7 separate regions of the Homo sapiens genome follow, and regions 1, 2, 3, 5, 6 and 7 are each linked to region 4. Evidence: fine-mapped expression QTL. A gene starts in region 4. Each other region holds a variant in brackets. All regions are shown on one strand. Distances are from middle to middle.

Region 1 (4,068 bases), 250 kb before region 4:
GAGTGAGTGATCATTTTAGTAGAATTTAGATGTTCCAGCCTGGCATTCTGAGGGCAGCTGTCCTTAAGTAGAGCAGAGACAGAGATGAAGCTACAGCTGCAGTCTGTGATCAGAGCCAAAGCACGTGGACCTCCTGCAGCCCCTAACCCTTCTGCGTCACGAGCACCCTAAATTGCAGAAGGAAGCTGAAGGGGCAGAGGGGATATGGTGATTTTAAACTGTAAGGAACTTCAGGGCAAGTTTTGCACTGATTGGGTCTTTGCAATGTAATTTTTCTTAAAAAGCTTGTTGTAAAAGCATAATTAGAATGTTTTGCACATTTCTTTCTATTCAATGGAGAAATTGCACTGGGTAGATGTCACTCAGAATCCAGTTCTGGCCCTTTCAGGGAGTGAGACTTTAAAACAAGTACACAAGGTCCCACTACTCTTGGTGAAACTAAATGGGGCTGCTCAACTCCATTCCCAATCCCCATGGAAAGTGTGTGGTGAGCTTTCTCAAGTAGCAGCAGCCGACAGTATTAACAGCATCTCTACATTGTAAATACATCCATGGAGGGAGAAGGGAGGAGCTCTGTATAAACAGGAAAGTATAGAAGGGGCAATCAGGGCTGAGCTGCACCTGGGTCAGTAAGGTGGCTGCTCCCTGAGTGCAGAGACACAGCCTGTCCTGCCAGGAGCATGAAACCTATTCAATCAACATTTTTGTATGAATGTGCATCAGTGATCCTCAAGATATTAATAGGAGTTTCAGGGGACAAAGGCATTCTAGCGGCCCAATGAGGAAACCCCACAGTAAACAGGCTTAAATTCTTGTAGCATCTGTAATGTTCTGTGGGCATCCAAAATCCCAAATGTGTGTTCAGGGACACTTCCTCAGTGTCCCTAAACACACATTCTTTGGAGAGGGGTCAAAAGACTTATTAGTCGCTCCCAACAGAAGTGTCCAAGGAACACAAATTCAGAAAATAGCAATTCAGCTGCACTTCCTTATTTGCAGGTGAAAGCCGCCATTTGGTTTAATGGGAAGAGGTGGTTTTGGAGTCAGAAGACTGAGACTGGGATCTGCCTCCTAAGGATGATGGGTATTGGAAACTCACGCCTATGTATCCATTTGTACATTTGAATAGGGGTGTAGTTGTGGCAATGATCTGTAGCTTTTACTGAGCACAAGGTAGGGTGCCTAGAACTCAGGAAGTGTTTAATAAATGATAGCTCTTGAAATTACCAATGGAAAACTGAGTCCTGGTGAGAACCAACTGGCCCAAGGCCAGCCAGTAAGGGAGGTACAGGGCGGAGCTGGGTCTGGGTTTCTTGCCTCCCCATCAACATTCTTTTTACTGTACTACACTAACTGAGAATAGAAGTTGTACATAGTTGTATTTCTCTTATAAGGATAACAAATCAAATAGATGTTGCCAGATGTTTCTGTTTCACAGAAGAATGAAGTTAATGGTTGTATATCAGGGCTCAAACCTAAGATTTAAAGAGAGATTGCTGAGCAAGAGCAGCCATAAAAGATGTCTATGTTGGTATTTCAGCATTCCTGGGCCGCATAAAGCACCATTTGGTCACATCTGGTCTCCATCAGGCCTGAAGTGTTACATAAATACATGCATGGTTTATAGGGTAAGGAGGCCCTGTTGAGACTGGCCAGATGTGATCTGTTTAGGCTCTGCAGACAGGGCCCAGGAAACTGCCTGATAGCCCTGCACAATGCCCTCCCAAGGGACAGAGCTCTCTGCTGCCATCAGTGCATCTAGGGCAGAGATACCATGCTAGCTGCTGTCACTCATGTCCAACATGCTTGGGTGTTCAACCTCCCTCTGTAAAAGCTCTTATTATAGACAACCAGTGGAGTTCAGTTCAGAAGTTAGAGAACAAAATGCTTTAATGACCTTGTGGGCTCCATCCATCCATCCATCCACCCATCCACCCATCCACTCATCCATTCATCTACCCATCCACTTCACCCACCCATTCATCTATCTACTCATTCATTTATGCATTTCTGCAATCATTTACCCACATGCCCATTCATCCATCTACCCATCTATCTCCATCTATATTCATCCATCTTTCTATCCATCTATCCATCCACCTGCCTGTCTGTTCAATCTGTCCATCCACCTATCCAACCATTCATTCTTATCCATGCACCCACCCATCCACCCTCCCATCCAGTTATTCAATGAATATGAGCTCCTTGCATGTGCAAAGCACTAGTCTAGGCGCAGGGAATCCCGCAACAAACAAGTCAGGCATGGAGCTGACATTTGTATCATGTTCCAGAGGGGGAGACAACATTGAGTAATTCCACAATTATTCATTGGCTAGGGTAATAAACTCTCAGAAGAATTACAAAATGCTCCAAGAGTGTGTAATAGGAGATGCCTCCTAACTAGGAGGCCAGAAAAGGCTTCCCTGACGCAGTGGGAGTGCCGTGGGGCAGCC[C/A]GGAGCTCTGGCTACAGCCCTGCACCCACCCTGGCTACTGCTTGGTTGGTTTTGTTTTCCCCAGGCCTGCCGATTTTACAGTTAACTCTTTCCTCCATATCATAAGCTTCCAAAACAAGGTTATCCCTTGTTTAGGTAAAACCATTAAAATTTTCCTAGTATCAAGTCCCCCAAGCAATCTAACTAAAAGATTGAATCACAAAATAGAAAAGTCCCTTCTACCACAGCTAATGCTGGAGGAGAATTCCAGGGATCCCTGCACAGCAGTCTCAGGGCAGCATGCCTTCCTCCCCAGGCCACCCGGGGCTCTGAGGAAGGCTGTCAGACTTCGGCCCCTTCCTGTATACTGAGCTCCTGACCACAGTCTTGTGCCGGTTTTGCTTTTTTAAAAGGGACAAGCAAACAGGAATCTTCCCCATGCCTACCCTCACTCGTGCACACAAAGTGGGCCTGGCTGTCATTTCCTCCTGGGGTCTGATCTCTGTTTTATGCTCCTGCTTGTTGATTCTGACCCAGGTAAGCCACACAGGGAAAAGCCATCTCCCTGCTCCTTGCTTCGGGGCAGCAGAGCCATTTCACACACACAAACACCCTGCACCCCAGCTGCCTGGTTTCAGTGGCTGCTTGCTTATGGCCAGACAGCCGAAGGCCAGGCAGGGCCCGGCCTCTGTTCTCAGGTCTCAGCAGTGATTATGCATGCGAGGTAATTACACTGGTCTTGTTTCCGTGCTCTAGGCCTAAGCCTGGATATTCAAGGAAGGGAGCCTCTGGTTTTTTGCTACGTTATAATTTCTTTGTAGGGACAGGGCTCTAGGCGACTCCCAAATGGGCTACCTGTGCCGTGGCCACTCATTTCCTATTGTGCAGAGTAGCAATTACACAGCCAGAGGCTGGCCATGGGTGGGTTTGTTCTTCTCTGTGACATGTATTTTGTGAAACAGAAGAGAGGTCCTCTGTTTCTGAAAGCAACTCTTAAAATAAATACACCAGGCTCCTCCAAGGAATATCTGCATGAGAAGAAGTAAGCTACTATGTCTAGTGGCTCTCAAAGTGTTTTGGCGGGTTGGTCAGTCGGTCCACACAGGGAGAGAGGGGCAGGACAAAGGCCTCACCTCCCACTCAACACTTAATCCTGGTCTTGGGAAAGTTAGCGTTTGCCCACAGGTGACATGTTCTCAGGGCCTGACTACCTGCGGGTGGACACCAAGGATAAGCTGTGTCTTGAATTTTTTTAAAGCTTAAAAAGAAATTACTTCCAGCTGTGCATCATGAGAAGACACTGGTTGGTGTGTGTGAACCGATTTGCAGCACAAAGGGCCCCAGAGTACTTGGCTGGGCCAGATAGTGATGATGACTCATGCTGTCTTTACAAGATACTGCATAAACCTAGAGCAAGACAGAAGTTCCTCCCTCCCGACTCCACCCCCTGGCTTTATTGAGATGTAATTGACAAATAAAGCTTGTATACAGTTAATTGTACAATGTGATGATTTGATGCATGTGCATATCATGAAGTGACGGCCAAGATGAAGCTAATCAGCACTTCCACTGCCTCACATGGTTACCATTATTTTTGTGTGTGTGAGGACACTTCAGTTCTACTCTCTTAGCACAT
Region 2 (4,068 bases), 120 kb before region 4:
TTTAGAATCCAGTAAAGTTCATATTGTCAAATAACTTATTTAAAGAGTTAGGGAAAGACTTGGGGAAAGACTTTCCAATCTCTCACTTCACTTCCAGTGTGAGATGTTATTTATATATGCAAAACTGGGAGGTATATATGTATATACACATCTAATAAGAATAACTTGAGTTGAGCAACCCTAAGATGCTACCATTTGTTTCATCCTTTTTAAATGTGCGTAGCCCCTCTCCAAACACACATAAGCAGTTTGAGGCAGGGACCATATTTTGTACTTTTTGCCTTCAAAGAGCATGATCCATAGCAGGAGCTACTAATGAGTGTTCGATCATCATAATGATGAATTAAATATAGATATTTTGTCATTCGTATTTTATTCATTTATTTTTGGAGATGGAATCTTGCTCTGCTGCCCAGGCTAGAGTGCAGTGGTGTGATCTTGGCTCACTGCAACCTCCGCCTCCCAGGTTCAAGCGATTCTCCTGTTCAGCCGCCCGAGTAGCTGGGGTTACAGGTGCCCACCACTATGCCTGGATAATTTTTGTATTTTTGGTAGAGACAGTGTTTCGCCATGTTGGCCAGGGTGGTCTCAAACTCCTGACCTCAGGTGATCCACCCAAGTTGGCTTCCGAAAGTGCTGGCATTACAGGTGTAAGCCACCTTGCCTGGCCTATTTTGTCATTTTAAAAATGTATTTCTCTACCTTCAGGTGGAGTCACAGATCTCAGTGGTCACCCCCAAGTGGAGAAGCTGTGCGATGCTGATGGCCTCTAGGGGGTGAGGCCACTGGGAACCAAGCCCTCCCCTGCAGCCCAGCGCTGTGTCCGCTGCAGCATGGGATCCTCGGGGCACTGGCTGGGGACATCTGAAGAGGTTATTGCTTCGCTGGCATGGACGGCAAGGGTCACACTGCCCAGCTGTGAGTTGCCCCTCAAGCAGCACCCTGTCGCCATTCCAGAGGAATGTTCCAGAGGAAACAAGGAACTGAGCTTAGCTCATCTCTGGTCTCTCCTCCCAGGAAGGACTTTTGTGAGGCCTGTTTTGTCCCCCACTGCCCGGCCATAGCCAAGTCCCTAAATGGACCTTCTTTGAAGGAAGAACCCAGCTACTCAACGCCCACCCTGTTCCCAGCCCCTGGTTTTGATGAAAATGCAGTCGTGCCCATGAAACTAGGAATCTGTGGGGTTTTTTAAAACTGCAGTGAGAGACAAAGAGCTGCTTCTCTTTGTCAACCAGGCTTCCCCCCTCCAGACATTTGCTTCTGCTTAGAGATATTATGAGCCGGAAAATTCACAAGGCCAAATCAGAGACAGGGGAAATTCCTCTGAGGGTTGGTGAATGGAATATAAATCCTGCTCTGATGTGGAAAACTAAGTTGCTGCTCAGTCATTATTCCTGTCAGCATTCCAGGGCCAGTCCTTGTCATTAAAGCTGCACTTTCATCCTGTCCACACACTCAAGGCCACACAAAAATAAGGGACTGCCCAACACTAAACTTCTTTTATTTTTTGAGGGAAGGGGGCACTCCTCTTTAGGGAAACAATATGTTTAAGTCAAGCAAAGAAGTTAAAAGTATGAAAACCATCTATGTGCATTTTCCTTTTCTCCATCTCCCCCCATCCACTCTTTCAACCTTCAGCGCTAATTTCTTGTTACCAACCTTGCACTAATACAATGCGACATTCTCAGGCCTGGAATTTGGTCTTTCAAAGCTGGTTCTGCTCCAAGTCCTCTGTGACCTTTCATTACTTTCTTCCACACCCCCTTATCTGAGCTGTCCATGTCTAAATGGAACCTACAGTTCCCAGAGAGAAGACAGAGAGAAAGAGAGACAGAAATAAAGAAGA[G/A]AGGGAGAAATAAAGGGAGGGAGGGAGTGACATAGAAGAGTCAAGGAGAAAGAGAGAGGGAGAGAGAGAAAAAGAAAGAGACAGAGAGGGAAGGAGAGAGAGAAAGAGTCAAAGAGAGAGGCAGAGAGAAGAAAGAAGGGAAGAAGAGAGGAAGAGAGAGAGGCAGATGGAGAGAGAGGGAGAGGAAGACACTGAGAAAGAGTCAAAAGCAGATAGCGGTGTGGGGAGAGAGAGAGAGAGAGAGAGAGAGAGAGAGAGAGAGAGAGAGAGAGAGAACCGAGAGGACCAGGCTGACTTGAGTGTCTCCTGCTGTGATCCAGCTCTGGAGGCCACACAGCATCGCTTCTACTGCATTCCACCCCACCCCATCTAAGGCAGTCACCAAGATTCAAGAGACAGAGAGTGGGAGAGTGAAACAAAGAGAGAGAGAGGGGGAGAGAGATAGAGAGAGAGAGAGAGAGAGAAAGAGGAAGAAGAAAGAAGAAGAAGAGGAAGAAGAAGAAGGAAGAAGAAGGAAGAAAGAAGAAAGAAGAAGAAAGGGAGGGAGAGAGGCAGAAAGAGACAGAGACAGAGCAGCGAGGCAGAATGAGAGACAGAGAGAGAGACACAGAGAGACAAAGTGAGAGAGTGAGAGAAAGACAGAGACAGAGAGAAAGAGACAGAAAGCAGAAAAGCAAAGGAGAGAAAGAGTGACAGAGAGAGAGAGTGAGAGAGAGAAAGAGAGAGAGGACATACACTGGCAAATCCCAGTTTCCTGTGGGAGAGGGGAAAGCAGAGCCGGTGTGTCTGGAATTACTCTTCTTCCCCAATCTATAATCCTTTTTCATGTTTTGATTAGAAACACTGTTGAGATGGAGCACCTATGAGAGGTCGTTCTCCTGGCATGGTCACAGCCTCATCTGGGCAGCTCTTGGCTCTTGGGCTCCTGCCCCGGGGCGGATCTTCATGAAGCACTCACGCTGTTGCCAGGAGGGGTCTGTCCAGCTGCATCATGCACCTGAGGACCCTTGTGCTTGCGGGGTGTGCATTCTCACTGCTAGTCCCGAGGGAGCAGAGAGCCCCACCGGCCCTGCTTCATTCTCCTTGTCCTGGCCATGCAAATGCGCTTCTCAGGAGGACCAGGAGCTGCCGAGGAAGGGGAGTCTGATCGGTGCAGTGATCAGGGACTCCAGGCTCACACAGTTTTCCCTGGAGAGCCCGAGAGGCAGGGAGTCTCTTACATTCCAGAAGAGAAAGAGGGACCATTCAGGATGGCAGGTTCAAGGATGAAGAGTTTTCTGTTTCTCAAAGCTTTTGGGGGATGACAGTTATGATTTTCATTCTTTAACATACGTTCAAACGTGGGCAACATGGATAAATATGCATTGCCACTATCACTTCATGAGTGACTTGAGAACTTTGGAATTAGGCAGAAGTTATGGCCCCCAAAACTGCTATTTTCTTTCTAATTAGACAATACAAGTACTTGAGGAATTAATTTGCTGTTTGCTTTCAGCGCTGACACATGAACAGTGAAAGGGGTCAAATTGTGCTGCGGCCATCTCCCCATCTCCTCCCCTCGCCTGACCTTGACCCGCCTGTGACCTTGGCTCTGTTGGCACCGTGCTAAGCCAATTACACTCACTCGGTGGCTCAGCCACATACCACAGTATCAGGCAGTCACAGCAAAGGAGTGGCTTTAGAATATGTGAAGGATCACCCCTGTAAATATGATTATCTTTCCTGGGCAGGAGAAACTGGAAGTTCATGTGTTACTGATGGCCACCTGGCGTCTCTGCACATAAGTGCAGGGCCATTATTGAGGATGGGAGAAGTTGTCACTATGACTAAGAGACTGTGGCTCTCCAAAGAGTGTCTGCCGAAAGGACCAGTCTCCTTGGAGAGTGTAATGTGTCATGGCACTATTCACTTTTGGGGGAAAAGAGCTTTACTTTTTAGAGTAAACTTGTGTTGAAAAGAACCAAAGCAAACACTGAAACCTATTCACAGACTGAAATCTTGTTTGCCTCAGGGAAATACTGTGCAAAATATTCTACAATCTTGAAAGTGCCCTGAAAATGAGTACTCCCTGTTTCAAGTCCTCAAATACCAATGACTCCAGAGAAGGCTGTGTTCTCCAATTTCACCTAAAAAGTAACAGATCTCCTAATGTTTTAAAGTTTGTGGGTTAAGCAGGAGCCTGAAACATTTTTTAAAAATCAACTTTATTGGCTGGGCGCGGT
Region 3 (4,068 bases), 130 kb before region 4:
TCAGACAAAAATAGTCCAAACAAAAACCTACTCTTGCTAGCCAAAACACCAGAAAAGGAGCAGCCTCACAAGATATTAAACTTTTAGACTGTAATTGCTCAATTCCAATCAAAAAACACAGAAAACACTTGATCCCATCCCCACCTACACCAGCAAAGGCCAAGGACCCCAAACTCCTAACCTCATGAAGTAACAAGGTGTTCCAAACACCCCTATCCCCAATTTCTTCATCCTGGTTGGTATCAGAGCAGCTGGAGTTAAGAGTCAAGACTTTCATCCCCGCCCAACAGTAAGACACCTCCTGCTTCCATGCTGTCAGTGGCCACCATGCCAGGAAATTGAATTTCTATCCTCATAGTCTGTAATAAGAGTGTAAGAATAGAAATGCTGCAGGAACAAATATGTATTCAAATAAGTAATGGCTGAAAATATACCAAATTTGGCAAAAGACTTAAACTACAGATTCAAGAAGTGAAATAAACTCCAAACGAGATCAACACCAGGACACATCATACTAAAGCTTCTGAAAACTAGAAACAAAGAAACAAAGAAAAAATATTGAAAGCAGCAAAAGAGAAAGGATGTCTTACCTACAGAGGAAAGACAGTCTAAATGACAATGAGTTTTCCATTAGAAACCAAGGAGGCAAGAAGGAAGGGTCACAACATTTTGTAAGCGCAGAAAGAACAGAATTGTTAGTACAGAATATTATATCTTTTAAGGATGAAGGGGAAATCAGGACACTCTCAAATGAAGAAAACCTAAGGGAATCTGCTGCCAACAGACCAACCCCAAAAGAATAACTAAAGGAAGTTATTTAACCCATTTCCTCTTTGCCCTGAGAATACTCTTCTCTCTAATCCTAACGTGACATCATAGACATTTCTGTTACATTAGTATTAGAGACAAGTTCTGTTTAGAAGTAACTGCAAAAACAGTTTTTATATTTCATTTTCACATTGAAAATCAGTCAGATTTGACTCAGCCTCAAAGAGCATGTAAAATTAAATGAGTGCTGGCAGTGAGCTGCATTTTTTTTTCTAAAGGGAAATGGGTTAAACATAAAGGAAATTATAAAATAAGAAATCTTGGGAGCTTGGAAGCAGAGACTGGGCTATTATCAGACTCTAAACCAGCTGGCACCTTGATCTTGGACATCTAGTCTCCAGAACTGTCTGGGAGAGAAAATGGCAGAGAGGAGGCAAGACTAACTTTCAACTCCCACTCAGATGGACAGAGCAGTGTGTGGAGACACACATTGTGAAATTTTGCTCCAAGACCTGCCACAGGAACATACCAGGAATGCTGAGAGAATCCAAAGACCCTTTGAAGGAGGTGGGTTGCTGCTGCAGGCTCCATGGGACAGCTGTGGAATTCTGATGTGCTCTTGAAAGTGCCACGCCCTGGCTGGAGGCCAACGAACACAAAACCAGTGCACTAAACAAAAATACAACCACATACCCTCACAGAGTCCACTTCACTCCCCAGCTACCTCCACCAGGTGCTGGTATCCATAGCTGAGAGAGCTAAAGATGGATCACATCACAGGACTCTTTGCAGACACTCCCTCCTCAGTACCAATCCAGAGCCTGGTAGTTCTATTGGGTGGCTAGATCCAGTGGAGAAATAACAATGGCTGCAGTTAGGCTGTCAGGAAACCCCATTCCTAGAAGAAGGGGAAGAGCACCATATCAAGGGAGCACCCTGTGGGACAAAAGAATCTGAACAGCAACACTTGAGTCACAGATCTTCCCTCTGACATAGTCTGCCAAAATGAGAAAGAGCTGGAAAAACAATTCTGGTAATATGACAAAACAAGGTTTTAACACCCCCAAAACATCAAGACAAAAATCTCAGAATTGCCAGAAAAAGAATTAGAAGGTTGACTATTAAGCCAATTAAGGAGGCACCAGAGAAAGGTGAAGTCCAACTGAAAGAAATCAAAAAGAAAATACAGGATATAAATGGGAAAATCTTTAGTGAAATAGATAGCATAAATTAAAAAAAATCACAACTTTTGGAAATGAAGAACACACTT[G/A]GAGAATTGCAAAATGCACTGGAAACTCTCAGCAATAGAATCAAAAAGTAGAAGAAAGAACTTCAGAGCTCAAAGGCAAGGCTTTTGAATTAATCCAATCCAACAAAGACAAGGAAAAAAAAAACAACAATAAAAAATGAACAAAGCCTCCAAGAAGATTGGGACTATGTTAAATGGCCGAACCTAAGAATAATTGTTTTCCCGAGGAAGAAGAGAAATCTAAAATTTTGGAAAACATATTTGAGGGAATAATAGATGAAAACTTCCCCAGCATTGCTAGAGATTTAGACATCCAAATACAGGAAGCTCAAAGAACACCTGGGAAACTCACTGCAAAAAGATGATCGCCTAGGCACACAGTCATCAGGTTATCTAAAATAAAGATGAAGGAAAGAATCTTAAGAGCTGTGAGGCAAAAACATCAGGTAACTTATAAAGGAAGCTCTATCAGACTAACAGCAGATTTCTCAGCAGAAACTCTACAAGCTAGAAGAGATTGGGATCCTGCCTTTAGCCTCCTTAAACAGAACAATTATCAGCCAGGAATTTTGTATTCAGTGAAACTAAGCTTCATAATGAAGGAAAAATACAGTCATTTTCAAGCAAACAAATGTGAAGATAATTCACCACTACCAAGCCAGCACTACAAGAACTGCTAAAAGGACCTCTAAATCTTGAAACAAATCCTAAAATACACCAAAATAGAACATCTTTACAGCATAAATCTCACAGGACTTATAAAAGAAAAACACAATGAAAAACCCAAGGTATTCAGGCAACAAATAGCACAATTAATAGCATAGTACCTCACATCTCAATACTAATGTTAAATGTAAATGGCCTAAATACTCCACTTAAAAGATACAGAATGGCAGAATGGATAAGAATTCAACAACCAATTATCTGCTATTTTCAAGAGACTCACCTAACACATAAGGACTCACATAAACTTAAGGTAAAGGGTTGGAAAAAGCTATTCCATGCAAATGGACACCAAAAGCAAGCAGAAGTAACTATTCTTATATCAAACAAAACAGACTTTAAAGCAACAGCAGTTAAAAAAGACAAAGAGGGATCTTGTGTAATGATAAAAGGACTAGTCCAGCAGGAAAATATCACAATCCTAAATATATGTGCACCTGACACTGGAGCTCCCAGATTTACAAAACAATTACTACTAGACCCAAGAAATGAGATAGACCGCAACACAATAATAGTGGGGGACTTCAATACTCCACTGACAACACTAGACAGGTATCAAGATAGAAAGTCAACAAAGAAATGATGAACTTAAACTATATCCTGGAACAAATGAACTTAACAGATATTTATAGAACATTCTATCAAATAGCTGCAGAATATACCTTCTATTTATGAAATATTCTCCAAGGTAGATAATATGATAGGCCACAAAACAAGTCTCAATAAATTTGAGAAAATTGAAATTATACCAAGTACTTTCTCAGACTACAGTGGAATAAAATTAGAAATCAACTCCAAAAGAAACTCTCAAAACCATGCAACTACACAGAAACCAATAACCTGCTCCTGAATGATCACTGAGTTAACAATAAAATCAAGATGGAAGTTAAAAAATTCTTTGAACTGAGCAATAATAGTGACACAACTATCAAAACCTCTGGGATACAGCAAAGGCAGTGCTAAGAGGTAAGTTTGTAGCATTAAATGCCTACATCAAAAAGTCTGAAAGAATACAGACAATCTAAGGTCACACATCAAGGAACTAGAAAAACAAGAACAAACCAACCTCAAACCCAGCAGAAGAAAAGAAATAACCAAGATCAGAGCAGAACTATATGAAATGAAATTGAAACAAAAAAATACAAAGATTAATGAAACAAAAAACTGGCTCTTTTAAAAGATAAATAAAATTGATAGACTGTTAATGAGATTGACCAAGAAAAGAAAAGAGATGATCCTAATAAGCTCAATTAGAAAAGGAACAGGAGGTATTACAGCCAATACTACAGAGATACAAAAGATCAATCAAGGGTACTATGAACACCTTT
Region 4 (4,068 bases):
TGGGTCAGATCCTGGGTCTCTCTTAGGGAAACCTGCCATAAAGCATGAGAGCCACATTACTCCTCAGGGCTTCTGGGCTCCGATTCCGCAGACTAGTTTTGGAGGCATCACCACGCCTCAAGGTTGCTCTGTTATATCAGGGTAACTGACTTTCTCTAGGAACGGAGACTTGGGTGCCCCTTAAAACAACCCTCAGCCAGTATCCTAGCAGTAAATTTTTCATCACGGGAAGCAACTAATTGAACAGAGGTGTGATGAACCTACTGACCACTTTGGTAATATAGACACAGTGGCCACAGTATGCTGTATTGTTATCCTGGTTGTGACCAATGCCAAAGGAGCATGTTTCCTTCTTTTCTTGACTTGATGCTGTAGGAGTCCAACAAAGGGAAGCACATTCAGGCCCACATGAAACTTGGGACAGAAGTGGCTTCTCAGAGCCGTGCACCAGGCACTTTGAACAAGTTGGAAGGCTACAGTGCCGGAAGACTCCACAGTAGCACAGGCGAAGTGGCTTAGGCGAAAACGCTGGGAAGTACCCCAGCTCCCGGGGGCCAGAGCCTCTAGGGCTGGCAGCCTCAGCAGGCAGAGTCACTTGCCTCCTTCAGCTCAATTGCTGAGGGCTTGCGTTTCTCTGCAGGGAACAGGAGTGCCGCCGACTTCCACTCTTGGTGCCCTTCACCGCTCAAACTGCACCCCAAATAAGCGTATGCACCCTGCTCCAAGAGAAGGATGCGCTGGGCTGATCCTCTGGAGGCAAGAGGGCAAAAGACAGAAAGTAACGAGCGGCCTTTGCACAAACTCAACTCTCTGCAGCGGCCCCTGCGGCCCAATCCTGCCGGCCCAGGAATGCACGGTCGGATAACAGGCCTCTCCTTGCTTTTTCGTCTTCTTCCTCCCGCTTCTCTCCTCTCTCCTTTTCCTCCTCCTCCTTTTTCTTTAATTTTCTCCTTTCTCCCCAAGCTTCTACAGTTGTTTCTGTGTTCGCTCAATCATGGCCTTTGGCATTGATTGAAAATTTGGCAGTTCCTTCTCTCGGAATTCTGTTTGAAGCCTTCATATGGATTTATTATTATTATTATTATTTTTGCCACACAAAAGGGGCAAATCCGCGTGAGGAAGGGGGTCGCATGGGGGTCGGCTGAGATCTGCTGGCTGCCGGTCTAGGAGGGGCGCTGCTCTGTGCCGGAGTGGGCTCTGGTGCACCAGCAGAGGCTGGGGGAGAGTGCTGCCCCCGCCTGGAGCCCAAGTCTCTGCGTGCCTGGGGGTAGAGCGCGGAGAGGGACCAGGCAGGCGCCGGAGGGGACCCGCGCGGAAAAGGAAGAAGCCCAAACAAAAACGCTGTCCGGCGCCAGGCGCCCACCTGCAAGCCCAAGCCGGTGCTCGGCCAGTTACAAAAGAAATGGTCAGGATCTGGACAACGATAATGATAGTATTAATCCTCCTATTAAGAATCGGCCCAAACAAACCCTCGCTGTCAGGGCGACAGGCGCCCGCCCAAGCCCAGACCTCGGACCTGGTTCCAAGCCTGTTCCCGCTGGGTCTCTGGGCGCCCGGTTTCTGCACCTGGAGCTCGCCCGATGAGGACAAGGTCTGGAGGCCGGCCTGGGAACAGGGGCCGAAGGGCGAGCCGGACCCTAGGGGATTGGTAGGGTCGGGGAGAAGGGGTCCAGGCTAGGGGCGGGCGGGGCGCACGGAGACCAGGCGGCTTGAGCGGGAGGTGGGGAGCTGGAGGAGTGCCGGGTTCGCGGGCGGGGGACGGGGAGAGGGGGGCGGGGAGAGGGGCGGGAGTCGGGGGCGGCGAGGGGAGGGGCGGAGCGCGGGTCCCGCCCCGGCGGGCCGCTGGAAAAGTTTAGTCTCTGACTCGCTCGGGCAGAGGCCGAGGAAGCCGGTTCCGGGGACGGGCAACAGGGACTCAGGGACCAGAAGGCGGCTGCAGGACGCGACCGAGCAGGACCCCAGGCCCGGGAACGACGTCGCGAGCGCTGAGACTGCCGGGCCTCCCAGCCCATCTGGCATTCGAGCGCAGGACCGGGCGCCCCGGCACCGCCGCGCGCCACCCGCTAGGATGCCGGTGGCCCCAGCGCCCTCAGCCGACGGAGGTGAGAGGCGGGCCCGGGCGGGGCGCGGAACCAGGGTGGGGGGCTGGGGGCCGAAGGACCCACCTTTCCAACAAAATCCCCACCGATCCCGGGCGCGACGGGGACTTGGGCGCGCCACGGCGGCCGGAGCGCTCCACATCAGCACCCCTCCCCCAGAGCCGCTGCAGGAACAGGGAGGAGGCCTTTTCCACCGCACCCGGAGCGTTTACAACGGGCTGGAGCTGAATACCTGGATGAAAGTGGAGAGGCTGTTCGTGGAGAAGTTCCATCAGTCGTTTTCCTTGGACAATTAACAAGTTAGGCTTCCACAGTGCCAGGGCCTGGGGATGCTGGACGTGGGAGAGGGTTGTGGTCGTTAGCCTGGGAAAATCATTCTTTTAAACAATATTCGCCGGAAAATTAGTTTTTTCCTAACATTTCTCAAACAAGGCAATTAGGGCCGTCAGAATCGGTGCTGGAAGACGAAGTCCCCACAGTGCAATAATGAGGTTCCCACGGAAAATCAGTACGTTGTGTTCGTAACTGAGATAACAGCTAGAGAAGGGGCTTTGGGCTTTTTGAGTCTCCCAATAGTCAGTCTCTCTCTCTCTCTCTCTCTCTCTCTTCCTCTGACTTTCTGGCTTTGGACACTCCCAATGGTATATTTCTTTGTGGTGTTTTTATATTTGGATATAAGAGAGGAACTTCTTGTTGGATTTTTAAGGGAACACACTTCGTTTTGACCCTTCCAATAAGGAAAGGGGAGCTACAGGAACAGAGAGCTCTTTAGAAGGTTACTTTTAAATGGAGGCCCCCCCATTCATGGTACCCACTCCCACTTGGACCTCTGAGACCTCCAGAATTAGGCATCATTCTAAAATCTGGACATTAGAAGTCACAGACTTTGTATATAACCACATATTCATAATTTATCTTTTCAATGTTTTTTATTCATAGATGAAAATCTTGCAGGCATAGTTAAGAAAAATATAATTCCTAGAAAGTACAAGGGAAGGATTATGCTCTGCAGATACATGACTAACAAGGATAGCTGGCCATGCCCAGGGCTGGTGTTGGTTGAGGAGGTGGTGATGGTGCGGGGCATGTGTGTGTGTGTGTGTGTGTGCGCTTGAGGAGTTGTGGAAGTGTTCATATCTGTAAAGTATTATTTCATGGATGCAGACCTTAATGCTAGGTTGAATAACTTTGTTGCCATAGAAGAAGAACCGCACGTCAGGCTTTTTTCATTAGCAAACCAGTAAGCACTCACTTTGGGCCTCTGAAATCACTTCCATCACCTAACACCAGAGATACAAACTGAAGCTAGCCCTTAAGAGCCTCCCCCTAAGATTTAGAGAGAATGATTTCTCAACCAGTTTTCATCTTTGAAAGTGCCATTTCTCCCTTTATCATTGTGATTTTTATTCAAATGCATGAGTCTCTGATTTTCTACCATATACAAAGGGTAGAGACTACAGTTTCCTATAGAAGAAACTTCACATAGTGGCCGAAGGATCTTATTTCTCAAAATTCAGGAACTGGTTTCCTCTTTCTGGAAATTATGACATTAACTTGATTTCATGGTATCTCTTTCATCTTCCTCAATGCCTGTGCTGTATGTATATTTTTATTATATACTGTAGGTATATTTTTATTACCAAAAAAAGGAGAATTTGAGCATGCCACAATCTTGAAAAATCTGAGGTTGCCCTGCTGTAGAACCCTTTAACTGCCAGGACTTTGTACTGTTTCCCAAGTGTTACCAGAGCCAGGCCGCCAGCCTTATGCAGTCTGTTTACCTTAGCTGGAACCAGGGTGCTGTGCTGTGGGTTCTATGAAACTTTCTGTTTCTTCATATTTGGCTTTGTAATTCCTTTCTTATCAGTTTTGGAGGCATTTCCTATTATTCCTCTGCCATATGTTTTCTGCCAAATTAATTGCCTTAAGATTTTCCTTAAGCTTTTGGAAATGTATAATGTTTGAGAAA
Region 5 (4,068 bases), 180 kb before region 4:
GATTATTTCTAGGGGCCTTTGGGGATCTAACACTGAGTAAGCCTGAAAAGTCTGTGGATCTGTGATTGGCACTCACAGCATCTGAAGAGCCACAGGGACTTGCAATGCCAGCATCATAAACCATGATCCTGGGGATTCAATACGGAAAACACACCCTTTTTCATAGAAAATTACTCCAAGACAATTGCCCATCCAAATGAAGCAGAGGGTGTTCTGAATGGAGGAATGAAGACAGATAGTGAAAAACAGGTAAGGACAGTCCACCCTGAATCCTGTCCAGTGCGGGGCCCCAACCAGGTGCTGGCCTGTTCCCTCTCTGTTTCCTATTTTGAGTGTTTTTTTTTTCTCTTTCTGTTTCTGGTTTCCATTGTTGGGTTTTCTAAATTTGCATTGCTCATGGAAGTATCTCCAACTCCTCCTCTTTGTCTTTGGCGTATCATCAAACTGTTTGTTGCTAATAAGAAATAAAATCCGCATACCTGCACTTTAGCTGGTTTAGACTTGCGTGGCACAATCAGAAAATACTCTCTTTGTCTCTCTAAGAAAGTCTTCAGTGGAGGGAATATTTCTCTTCCCCGGGGACGGCAATGCAGCAGGCCTTATACTTCTCTTACTATTTTTAAAAAAAACTCTTGATGGAAGTATTCTGTCTACTCAAGCCATCAAAACACAGTCTTAGAATATAGTCTCAATTTGGTCATTTGTGTTGAATCCTGTGTTGACCTGAATTGAGCGTCCCCTGCAGGCACATGTGGGCGGGCAGGCCAGTTCAGGGCCAGTCAGTCTGTCTGAGCCTGGTCTCTCCTGTTGTCCAGGGCCTCTCCACTTATGGCTGAGAGCTCACTGCTCCACATGAAGGTTTGGAGGAGGGACCACAGGAGGAGGAGAGCCCTGAGGACCTGCCTTCTGGGCCCAGGAAGGGCCTCCTGCTGACCCTCTCATAGTGCATTCTGGCTTGCCAAGCTCCCCTCTCACTGGGTGGGCGGGGAGGGTCTGTGACCGCAGCCCCTTCACCTGCAGTCGGGTTCACTTCTGCGGGTCGCTTACTCAGGGAGCCAGAGGTGGAGGGAGCTGAGCTGGCCTTTGATGCTGCTACCTCCCACACCAGGCCCACATCCCATCAGGCCTCCTGCACCCTGAGCTGCAGCCGGCTCTGACAGGGCATCACTCCCAGCACAGTGGGTCTCCCATTCCCCATGATCTTAACAGCCACAGGAAGCAGTTCCTCACACGGAAGCGGGCAGGATGAGCTCTTGACTTGAGCTAAAAGGGAAAACACCTTCCACACCTACAGGGGGCTTCGATACACCCTCCAAATAATCCTTTTCACAGAGTCTCCCAGCCTCCCCCACATGAGGCCTAGATGCTCCAACAGGTCCTCAGAGAGCAAAACCAATTTTTAATGAATTCCGTTGTAAATGTTGCATAAGCTCCGGCACCTCGTTTGAAATGCAGCCAGTCCTGTGCCCTGTTTTCCAAGCAGCGCCTTCATGTTAACATCTTTTCATCTCTGGGAAGAAAATTGCTTTCCATCAAAAGATTTAGAAAGCATGGGATTTATAATTCTCTTTAATAAGCAAAACATGCGTGCAGAAACGCTAAGAAATGAGCGTGTGGGGTTTCCCCACTCAGACCCAGGTCAAGGTCAGAGCCTCCAGGGTCCCTATGTGCCTTAGTCATTTATGTAAACAGTCCTTTACTTTAGGGCACTTTCTGTTGATCTATTGGCCATATACTTTTTTTTTTTTTTTTTTTTGAGCTGGAGTTTCACTCTTGTTGCCCAGGATGGAGTGCAATGGCATGATCTTGGCTCAGTGCAACCTCCAACTCCTGGGTTCAAGCAATTCTCTTGCCTCAGCTTCCCGAGTAGCTGGGATTACAGGTGCCCGCCACAACACCTGGCTAATTTTTGTATTTTTAGTAGAGACAGGGTTTCACCACATTGGTCAGGCTGGTCTCCAATTCCTGACTTCAGGTGATCCACCCATCTTGGCCTTTCAAAGTGCTGGGATTACAGGCATGAGCCAGCGCGGCTGGCCATACACTTTTAAAGGAGGGGTCTGCTTTAAGATTTGGATGAAAAATAAATAAAATTAACTGCATGAAAAAGCAATTTGCAAATGGGTGGTCCAAGCCCCTCTTAAAGTTTGATACATCTTTCAAGCTGAGAGGAAGTCTACGTACCTCCACCATCTCCAGAGTTTGTTCCCTGCAAAAGTGATTTTAAT[C/G]TAGAGCAATGAATTCTGCAAACTCACATCTCAGGCATGTTCCTAATAATAGACTGCCTCCCTGCCCCCACACTGGCAGCCGAATGTTGCCAGTCCCAAGGAATGCTCCATCATGATGCCATTTGCCTGTCAGGACTCTATCCCAGCAGCAGCTGCAGCTGATTATGGCTCGGCTGTGGGCTGTGTTTTTTTATGATCCACCTCCTCCCTTTCAAAATCAATCAGGGCACACTCATGGAAGTAAAATTAGAGGCCCTGGCCAGGGCTTCAGCTTGAGAAATGCACTTTCCCCTCCTTTTCAGGGCAGTGGTGTCCAAGGAGGCCAACAGAGGGGTGGACACCCCGCAAGAAGCCCTGTGACAGCCTCCACCCAGCGTGTCTCCATCTATAGGCAGTTGCTAAGAGACTTAAAATGCTTTTATTCCTGAAGTTTCTTCTTCTTTCCCCTCCTAACCACCCTGGTGTGGCCCTCAGCTCTCAGTAGATATTTCATGTTCTGCACTCCCCTTCCAACCATGTTTATTTCTGCTTTGGGATGCTTGTTGGAAATAGCATGCCATTCAAAGTCACAGACTGTCACCTTGTCCTTAGCTGCTGCCTTCATTTCAGTCCTTTTTTCTACCTATCGAGACTCATTGGCAACCACCATGTGGTCCCTCCCCAGTTATCCCACTGCTCTCTGGGGGCATCATCTGAGCTCGGTTGTCCCTCAGCAGCCTGGGCCAGAGCTGTCCTCTTTGGTTGATTCTTGAACAATCCATCACCTTCACATCCCAACGTGACATTTCCATAAGATCAAACTGCATTCTTTATCCATCCCTGAAGATACATATTCATTTTCAAAAGCTTTGGCTCTCAATTAAAACAGAGAGAGTCATTTGGTCGAGGGCTCTGTGGAAAAGACATTATTAGCTGGAGTATTCTTCTCTTCCCTGTGGTGAATGAGAGAGCATTTTCCAATTAAGGCACTCATTCACTTTCAAGAGGCATGTGCAGGGTGCTCAGATGCGGTATAAAGGAGAGCCAGGCAGATCAGTAGCAAACGAGAGGAAAAACTGGTGGAAAATTAAGAAGAAATGAGAGTATTCAGATGCCAGAAGAGAAAATGAAAGACTGATACAGTGACGTACTCCTGCCCCAGAAGCGGAGTGTCTGCTCAAAAGCGTGAATTTGTGCAAAAGGTTGTGCACCAAAGCAGAAGGGATTCTGTTTGCACAAATGCATGTTTCTATGGATGTGCACGAGATCTGTTGTTCTAACAAGAATTGCTGAGCATTTCCAGCAGGTCACTTAGGGGAGAAAGGACTCTGCAGCCTTCCTGGCCCATCTTCTTCCTAGGTATCCCGGGGGAAGGGCATTTCTGATCTGCCTGCTCCAAAGCTGGGACTAGTACTGGGCCATCTGCTATCGCCTCCCAGGTGATGTGCCATAAAGTCAGAACTCATGAAACATCTCCTGGGCAGCCTCCTTCACTTTCCACACCTGTAACGAGTGGAGAAATTTAGGCCTGGGTCTCTCTTTCTCTCACTCTCTCTGCCCCATCTTCGTCATACCAGATATTCCGAGCATGCTGGTCCCAAAATACAAGTAGTGTAGGGGAGGCCTGGAGAGAGTGAGGCAGGAGCTCAAGTTGTCCCAGAGCCTTGCGTGGGAGCTGGTTGTTGCTTTCCTGGCCACTGACAAAGCGCTTCACCGACCTCCAGTCTATTCTCATTTCCTGCCTTTGACTCCTCGGTAGAGCGCCGTGCATCATGACTGATGACTGACTCTCTTGCCGGCTCCCTGTGGTCAGTCCCTGGGTTGGGTTGAGGCAGACACTCCATCTTCATGGAGTGTGGTC
Region 6 (4,068 bases), 590 kb after region 4:
TATACATGATTGCCATGTATATGGACATGACTATAGTAGATGGACAGACTATCTAAAGACATCCATGTAGACAGACAGACTATCTAAAGAGATTATGACTGAAAAATATCCAAATTTGATGAAGAGTATAAATCTACCACTCCATAAAGTTCAATAAAACCCAAACACAAGAAAAATGAGGAAAATGAATCAAGGCACATCATAATCTAATCTTAAAAGCAACCAGAGAAGCAGCACAAAGGAACAGATGCAGAACAAGAGCAGATTTCTCACTGGGAAGGACACGAGAGAACATGGTGGAGCTGCCCCTTTAAAGCGCAGAGCAAAACCCAAACCTTCAACCTAGAATTCCATGCCCAGAGAAAACATCCTTCAAAACTGAAGGTGAAATACACACGTTATCAGACATACAAAAGCAAGACAGTTCTGACCAGCAGAATGACACTGCCAAAAATGTTAAAAGAAGTCTTTGAGGCAGAAGGAAAATGACCCCAGATGGGAAACTGGATCTAAGAACTGAAGAGCTAAGGTAACTTTATAGCAACTCTAAGACCTTTTTCCTATGATTTAAATTTCCTTAAAAGTAATTGTATAAACAAAAATGATAGGGCAGTGTAGGATTTATAATGTATGTATGAGTAAAATGTGTGACAAATATAGCATAAAGCCCTGGATGAGAGAAATGGAAGTATACTATCTTATGGCTCTTACAGAATACATGCAGTGGTATAATATCACTTGAAGAAAGACTAACAGTTTGAAGACAGATACTATAAACCCTATGGCAATCACTAAAACAATAACAACAACAACAACACGACAACACAACAACAACAAAGCTGAAAAAGAAGGGAATCCAACTAATTAATCCAGAAGAAGGCAGCAAAAAGTGAAAATGGAAATAAAGAACTTGGGGCAAATAGAAAACAAATAGTACACAATAAATTTAAACCTAATCATAGCAATAACCCCATTAAATGTATGTGGTCTAAACAAGCCAATGAAAAGGCAGATTCTATTTATCATAGTACTAGAAACACTAGCAAGAGCAATCAGGCAAGAGAAAGAAATAAAAGGCATCCAAATAGGAAAAGAAGAAGCCAAACTATCTCTCTTCATGGGTTATATAATTCTACACCTAGAAAACCCTAGACTCCACCAAAAGGCTGCTAAAGCTGATAAATGACTTACGCAAAGTTTCAGGACACAAAATTAATGTACAAAAATCAATAGCATTACTATAAACCAGTAACATTCAAGCTGAGAGCAAAATCAAGAATGCAATTCTATCTACAATAGGCACACAAACAAAAAATACTCAAGAATATATCTAACCAAGGAGGTGAAAGATCTCTACAAGGAGAACTACAAAACATTGCAGAAAGAAACAACAGATGACAAAAACAAATGGAAAAACATTCCATGCTCATGCTCGTGGATTGGAAGAATCAATATCATTTAAATGGCTACACTGCCCAAAGCAATCTACAGATTCAATGCTATTCCTATCAAACCAACATCATTTTTCATAGAACTAGAAAAAACTCTTCTAAAATTCACAAGGAATCAAAAAAGAGCCCGAATACCTACAGCAATCCAAAGCAAAAAGAACAAAGCCAGAGGCATCATATTACCCAACTTCAAACTATACTACAAGGCTACAGTAACCAACACAGCATGGTACTGGAAGAATGCAGAGAATGAAACTGGACCCACATATAAAGAAAGAAACTGGACTCCTATATAAAATATGCAGAAGAATAAGACTGGACCCCTATATAAAGTATACAAAGCTAACTTTCACCATATACAAAAATTAAGATTAAAGAGGGATTTAGATTAAGATTAAAGAGGGATTAAAGAGGGATTAAAGATTTAGATGTAAGACCTCAAACTATAAAAATCCTAGAAGAAAACCTGGACAATACCCTTCTCAACCTAGGAAATACTGTCTGACAAAGAATTTATGGCTAAGTCCCCAAAAGCAATTGCAACAAAACCAAAAACTGACAAGAGGGACCTAATCAAACTAAAGAGCTTCTGCACAGCAAAAGAAATTATCTGCCAGTTGTGGTGGCTTATGCCTGTAATCCCAGCACTGTGGGAGGCTGAGGCGGGTGGACAGTGAGGTCAGGAGTTCAAGACCAGCCTGGCCAACATAGTGAAACCCCGTCTCTACTAAAAATC[C/CA]AAAAAAAAAAAAAAATTAACTAGGCGTGGTGGCAGGTGCCTGTAATCCCAGCTACTCGAGAGGCTGAAGCAGAAGAATTGCTTGAACCTGGGAGGCGGAGGCTGCAGTGAGCCAAGATTGCACCACTGCACTCCAGCTGGGCAACAGTGCAAGACTCCATCTCAAACAAACAAACAAAAAAAAAGAAAAAGAAAAAGAAAAAGAAATTATCAACAGAATAAACAGACAACTATGGAATGGGAGAAAAAATTGCCAAACTATGCATCCAACCAAGGTCTAATATCTATAAGGAACTTAGTTCAACAAGCAAAACCCAAATAACCTTATTTGAAAATGGGCAAAGACATTAACAGACACTTCTCAAAAGAAGACAGATAAGTGGCCCAGCCACATCACTAATCATTAGAGAAATGCAAATCAAAACCACAATCAGATAACATCTCGTACTAGTCAGAATGGCTATTGTTAAAAAGTCAAAAAATCACAGATGCTGTGGAGGCTGCAGAGTAAAGGGCATTCTCATACACGTTGGTAGGAATGTAAAGTAGTTCAGTCACTGTGAAAAGAAGTTTGGAGATTTCTCCTCAAAGAAAACAGAGCTACCGTTTGGCCCAGCAATCCCATTACTGGATATATATCCCAAAGAAAATAAATCATTCTACTAAAAAGACACATGTGTTTGCATGTTCATCTCGGCACTATTCACAATAGCAAAGACATGGAATCAACACAGGTGCTCGTCAATGGTGGACTGGATAAATAAAATGTGGTACGTATATACCATGGAATACTATGCAGCCGTGAAACAGAACAAAATAATGTCCTTTGCAGAAACATGGATGCAGCTGGAGGCCGTTATCCTAAGCAAATTAATACAGAAACAGAAAACCAAAGATTGCATGTTCTCACTTAGAAGTGGAAGCTAAATATTGGGTACCTGTGGACATAAAGATGGGAAAAATAGGCAATGGGGACTATTAGAGGGTGGGACAGGGGCAAGGGTTGAAAAACTAACTATTGGGTACTATGTTCAGTGTCTTGGTGATGGTGTCATTCATACCCCAAACCTCAGCATCATGAAATATACCCAGGTAACAAACTTGTACATGTACCCTTGAATCTAAAATAAAAGAAAAAAAAGAAAAGAAAAGGCAGATTGTCAGATTGGATTAAAAAAAACAAGACACATGTCTATTTTCTGCCTAAAAGAAACATACTTTAAATATATAAACATAAATGTTTTAAATGTAAAAGACAAGGAAAGATATACTGTGTTTACACTAATCAAAACAATGCTGGAGTGGCTCTGTTAACAAAAACATGGCTTTTAGAGCAAGGCATGTGGCCAGGAAAAATTTCACAGTGAAGAAGGGGTCAATCACCAAGGAGACACAACAATCCTAAACATTTTTGTGTATAATAATAGAGCTTCAAAATATAAGAAGCAAAAACCCGAAGAACTTCATGGAGACATAAGCAAATCCACAATTGGATTTGAAGAGTTCAATAACCTCTTTCAAATGATTGATAGGATAATTAGGCAGAAGTTCAGTGAAGATACAGGAGATTTGAACAATACTATCAACCAATTTCCTTTAATTGACAGAACATCCACCCAACGACAGCAGAACACTTTTTTTTTCTTTTTCTTTTTTTCTTTTCTTTTGAGTCAGAGTTTCGCACTGTCGCCGCCCGGGTTGGAGTGCAATGGCGAGATCTATGCTCACCGCAACCTCCGCCTCCTGGGTTCAAGAGATTCTCCTGCCTCAGCTTCCCGAGTAGCTGGGATTACAGGTGCCTACCACCATGCACGGCTAATTTTTTGTATTTTTAGTAGAGACAGGGTTTCACTATGTTGGCCAGGCTGGTCTCGAACTCCT
Region 7 (4,068 bases), 40 kb before region 4:
ACCTACACTCCACAAATCTCTTGTCACTTCTTTCCCCAGTGCTCATATAAATACACCATGTATTTTATAATGTGTATATGAATTCCCCAAGAGAAATCTAGTTCAAACTTTCATATTGCAAACATGCCTGGCCAACACTTTGGCACTCTGTGCACCCGAGTGTGTCCATGTTAAAATGCCTACTATTAAGGGATTACTTTGCCCCCTTTCAATTTTATAGATATGCAAACTTGAGTGTGAAGTGGCATGTCCAAATTAGTGCCAGCTCATTAGGCCAATAAAAGCTGGGAATCAATCTCATTACTGTTTTTGCCCAGTTCTGAAGAAGCTTCCAGCCACCAACCTGGTGACTCAACTAGCAACTGAGAATCTTCATGCATCATCCACACCCAGTGGGGCTGTTTACACACTCCTGCCTCCACCACAAGGCCCTGCAGTCACACCTTCATCACACTCCAGCCAAACACCCAAACGAAGAGGGTCACAGATCTCTTTGAAACTTTGATGAAAGCAACCAAAAGCAAAGGCATTTGCTCACAGAAGCATTTGGCATACTTGCCCTAGAATGGCCAGTGGCATCTTCTCAGCCAAGCTTAGCAGCTGGAGCTGCCCCTTCCTCCCCAACCAGAGCCGCTCCATGACCTGACTCTGCTCAAGAGATGTGCCCTGTTCCCAGAGAGGCTCAGGCTTTCCAGCAAAGTCCGCAGGGCTGCCTGCAGCCCCTGCTTAGGGTTGGGCTGGCCCCCTCCTCCACTCACTACTTCATGCACAGCTATAATCCCCTGGGCCATGAGAGCTTGTTCACACATCTTCATTGTTCATGTCTTTCACAATAGCATAGTTGTGAAACAGTCCTGTATAAACACATCACAGACAAAGGCAAACAAGACAAAAACAGTTTCAAAAACTTTCACTTAAATGTGCTCACTGTCATAAGTTTAAAATTATTGAAAACATCATGAATTTAAAAGCCCAGGAAAACGAAGACTCGTCTATTATTTTGCCTGCAAGAAGCACACACCAGTGAGATCGTCCAGTGTGAGTCAGAGTATTTAAGGAGTAGCTCTTCAAACACTTCGATTTTTATCCCCATTGTTTTTAAGAATGGAGAGAAATGGATTGCGGTAAAAAGACGTCACTGTCCACTAAAAGTCAAAATACTGCATTTAAACTCTTCACGGCAGGCACGGATTACTTAGAATACTTTTTGTGAGGTAAACACCATGGCAGAAAATTAATGAGTCATACTAGCTAGGGATAACAAACATGGCTTGATTAGCTGCAGATAGTGAGAATTTCATTCCTCATGCATTAAGGGCTAGTTTCCTAGAGAGGAGGATCAAACAGAAACCAGTAAAAGTCCTTGGGTTGTGAGTTACAGACCTGGCCTCTGGGAGATGGGCTCTGGGCAGATGCAGAATGGCTTTTGACCTGCTTTGTGTTACATAGAAAAATGTGTGTTTGGAGGATGGTCAAATCAAGACCTCAGTTTAATGATTTCACCTCATGGGCACTGTTGTGTGGTCATTGCCTCATGCTGTGATCCATGCATTGTGTGTGTGTGCATGTGTGTGTATCTGTGCATGTGCACATGTGATTGTGAATGCATGTGCAGACATGTGTGTACATGTGCATGTCCTTGAGCAGATACATGCATCCAACGCAGTTTAACAATGTCTCCCACCTAACACTTCTCCAGATAGCTGCACAGTTGTGTTGCTCCCATGGTGTCACTGATGTGATGGTTAACTTTATGTGGTGGCTTGGCTAGACTATGGTGCCCACATGTTTGGTCAAACACCTGCTGTATTTTTAAGAGTTGATTAACATTTCAACCAGTAGATTTTGAGTGAAGCAGGTTCCTTTCTGTAATGTGGGTGGATCTCATGCAGTCAGTTGAAGGCCTTAGGGGAAAACCGACCTCTCCCTAGGAGGAGGGAATTCTGCCCCCAGACTGCCTTTGCCTTTGGACTCCAGCTGAAGCATCAAGTCTTCCACTCTTCCCTGGTCTCCAACCTGCTGGCCTGCCCTGCAGATTTTGTACTTGTCAGCCTTCACTATCACATGA[G/T]CCAGTTCCTTAAAATAAATCAGTATCTCTGTCTACACACACACACACACACACACACACACACACACACACACGCATCCTATTGGTTCTGCTCCTCTAGAGGACCCTGACTAATACCCAGCACCTTTCTATGGGTAGAAGTCAAGCAATGTTGCCAGCAGTGATATTTGGCCAACTTCATGGTCATCATGAAGACCATCATGGGAGGGTCATCACCTTGTTCCTGGCCTGTGCTATGATGCATGGGGCTTGCTTTCTGGGGTCTGCTAGTGAGAGAAGGAGCCCTGGGAGCTGAGACGAGGCCTTCATCACCCAGCCTTGGAGAAGGAGGTCAGAGAAAGTTTCTGGCAGGAGACAAGCCAGCTTGGAAAGAGACAGAGAGATGGGATGCCTTCTGGTTTCCCTGGAAAATGGGCATCAAAATGGTGGTGGAACAAGGCCACCAATTCTGGTGTTGGCAAACATGAGCTGAATTTCCCCATGGCAAACATGAGCTGAATACAGCTGGTCTGTATTGGTGCAAAACGTATTATTCTTTATTGCAGTGGTTCTCATACAGCTGAATCCCCTGGGGGACTTTTAAAAATGCCCTACCCCAGAGACTCTGACTCAGCAGATCTAGGGTGGGATCCAAGAATTTGCAATTCTTAGCTGATGCTGGCCCTGCTGATCCTGGGGCCACACTTTGAGAGCCATTGTCCTATCAGGATAAATTTTTAAGCACCCATGGTCCTCATAGATTGGGGATTGGGTGAACCATCACAGGCCATTGCATTGCTTGATGGTACTCAGAACCCAAAAGAGGGGCACCCAAGAAAAGATCGGGTTGTTAGTGCCAGCCTTTCATAGAAAAGAGCAGGAAGGCACAAGCAAGCTCCTTCTCATTTCCCGCTGTCTTCACCACCACACCAGGATGGAGTGGGCATGGAGTACAAAGGAATCCCTCAGCTCTCCCACCAGGGTGAGGTTGCACAATAAAGTATCCATTCCTTTGTCCCCCCAAAAAACATAAGAAGCTCTTGCTTCTCAGGGCATTGTGCATACACCACCTGGGAATATTAATTTAAAACACAAATAAAAAGCTACTCCTAAGACCACCAAATTCAAAGTTTGGGAGCCAGAGCCTGAGAACCTGCATTTAACAGCGCCCCATTCACATCAAGCAGACTGAAGTTGTGACCCAGCCCTATTCAGCCTCCTCCTGGTGGGTCTGGTGCCCACAGTTCCCCTCCACTCTGCACCAGGCTGCTGCACACATCCCTTCAATGCACCAGCCACTCTGCTCAGGGCAGCTCTCACCTCACCTGGCCCCTCTAAGGGATGCCCTGTAAGCCCACAGTGCTGAGTCAGTGGGATCAGTGGGCATCGGGAGATAGGGACCTGCCTGCAGAGGACAGAGGTGCCCTGGACAGTGTGGTGGGGGCCACACAAGAGCAGCCCTTGAGGGTAGATACACCACCCAGTTCCACACTCATAACTAACCACTTTCATCTGGTGAGTCGGGAACAGTGGGAGCAAATTGTGTCGCTCAGTGTTCAGCTTCACCCACAGATTAACCACAACATTAGGGACCCACAGTCCGTCATCTGCTACACATCAGAGGGAATGAGGGATGTGAGTCCTGCCCAGCGATGTCTCATTCTGACTTCGTGGGATTTCTGGCCTCTGTCAGAACAGGAAACAGGCTTGTGTTGCATTAAGGATGCTGCCCTTGCTGCGTGGACTCTTTAGGAAGGAATGAGAGCAATTTCCCCAGAGTGGGGCAGTTCCAGGTCTGGCCCTCCTTTCTCCCAGGGGCAGGAATCGGCCTTTGTGCTTAGGGAAAATGGACACTGGGCCTTGTGCTTGGAGCTTCTACTAAACTCATCTGAGAACTAAACTCTGCCCAGAAAGTTGAACAATGGACCTTCTGTGTTAGAGAGTTTGAAAGTGAAAGTGGTCATAGAGTTGAATTTTTGGAGACAACATTCTGGCTCCCTGGGAGACAGGGATTAAAGCCT

Alleles and levels. Alleles are on the strand shown, and positions count from the first base shown. SD is a standard deviation of normalised expression in the study named. Not every link is listed here.
For the expression in pancreatic islets of the gene that starts at base 1,875 in region 4, allele CA in region 6 goes with a higher level than allele C (moderate effect, 0.53 SD a copy in PISA).

Evidence for each region.
Region 1: its variant is fine-mapped to the expression of S1PR3 in fibroblasts (GTEx, PIP above 0.99).
Region 2: its variant is fine-mapped to the expression of S1PR3 in whole blood (TOPMed, PIP above 0.99).
Region 3: its variant is fine-mapped to the expression of S1PR3 in whole blood (INTERVAL, PIP 0.95).
Region 5: its variant is fine-mapped to the expression of S1PR3 in sun-exposed skin (GTEx, PIP above 0.99).
Region 6: its variant is fine-mapped to the expression of S1PR3 in pancreatic islets (PISA, PIP 0.95).
Region 7: its variant is fine-mapped to the expression of S1PR3 in whole blood (TOPMed, PIP above 0.99).

Annotation. Positions count from the first base shown.
Region 1 is chr9:88,744,177-88,748,244 of GRCh38, forward strand. MIR4289 (microRNA 4289) reads right to left here and starts at 1,729; the gene lies at 1,660-1,729. RefSeq lists an enhancer at 2,953-3,641 and a silencer at 3,538-3,832. The variant C/A (reference allele first, on the strand shown) is at 2,454.
Region 2 is chr9:88,871,007-88,875,074 of GRCh38, forward strand. The region is part of intron 1 of LOC124902205 (a long non-coding RNA gene); the gene reads left to right. Among named protein-coding and RNA genes, the nearest start is that of S1PR3, 120 kb to the right of the region's middle. The variant G/A (reference allele first, on the strand shown) is at 1,847.
Region 3 is chr9:88,855,174-88,859,241 of GRCh38, forward strand. All of the region lies in intron 1 of LOC124902205 (a long non-coding RNA gene), which reads left to right. Among named protein-coding and RNA genes, the nearest start is that of MIR4289, 110 kb to the left of the region's middle. The variant G/A (reference allele first, on the strand shown) is at 2,039.
Region 4 is chr9:88,989,594-88,993,661 of GRCh38, forward strand. S1PR3 (sphingosine-1-phosphate receptor 3) reads left to right here and starts at 1,875. Exons shown (of 2, transcript NM_005226.4): 1 at 1,875-2,102. RefSeq lists a silencer at 1,421-1,715.
Region 5 is chr9:88,812,352-88,816,419 of GRCh38, forward strand. No RefSeq gene overlaps it. Among named protein-coding and RNA genes, the nearest start is that of MIR4289, 68 kb to the left of the region's middle. The variant C/G (reference allele first, on the strand shown) is at 2,229.
Region 6 is chr9:89,582,981-89,587,048 of GRCh38, forward strand. No RefSeq gene overlaps it. Among named protein-coding and RNA genes, the nearest start is that of GADD45G, 20 kb to the right of the region's middle. The variant C/CA (reference allele first, on the strand shown) is at 2,188.
Region 7 is chr9:88,949,771-88,953,838 of GRCh38, forward strand. No RefSeq gene overlaps it. Among named protein-coding and RNA genes, the nearest start is that of S1PR3, 40 kb to the right of the region's middle. The variant G/T (reference allele first, on the strand shown) is at 2,069.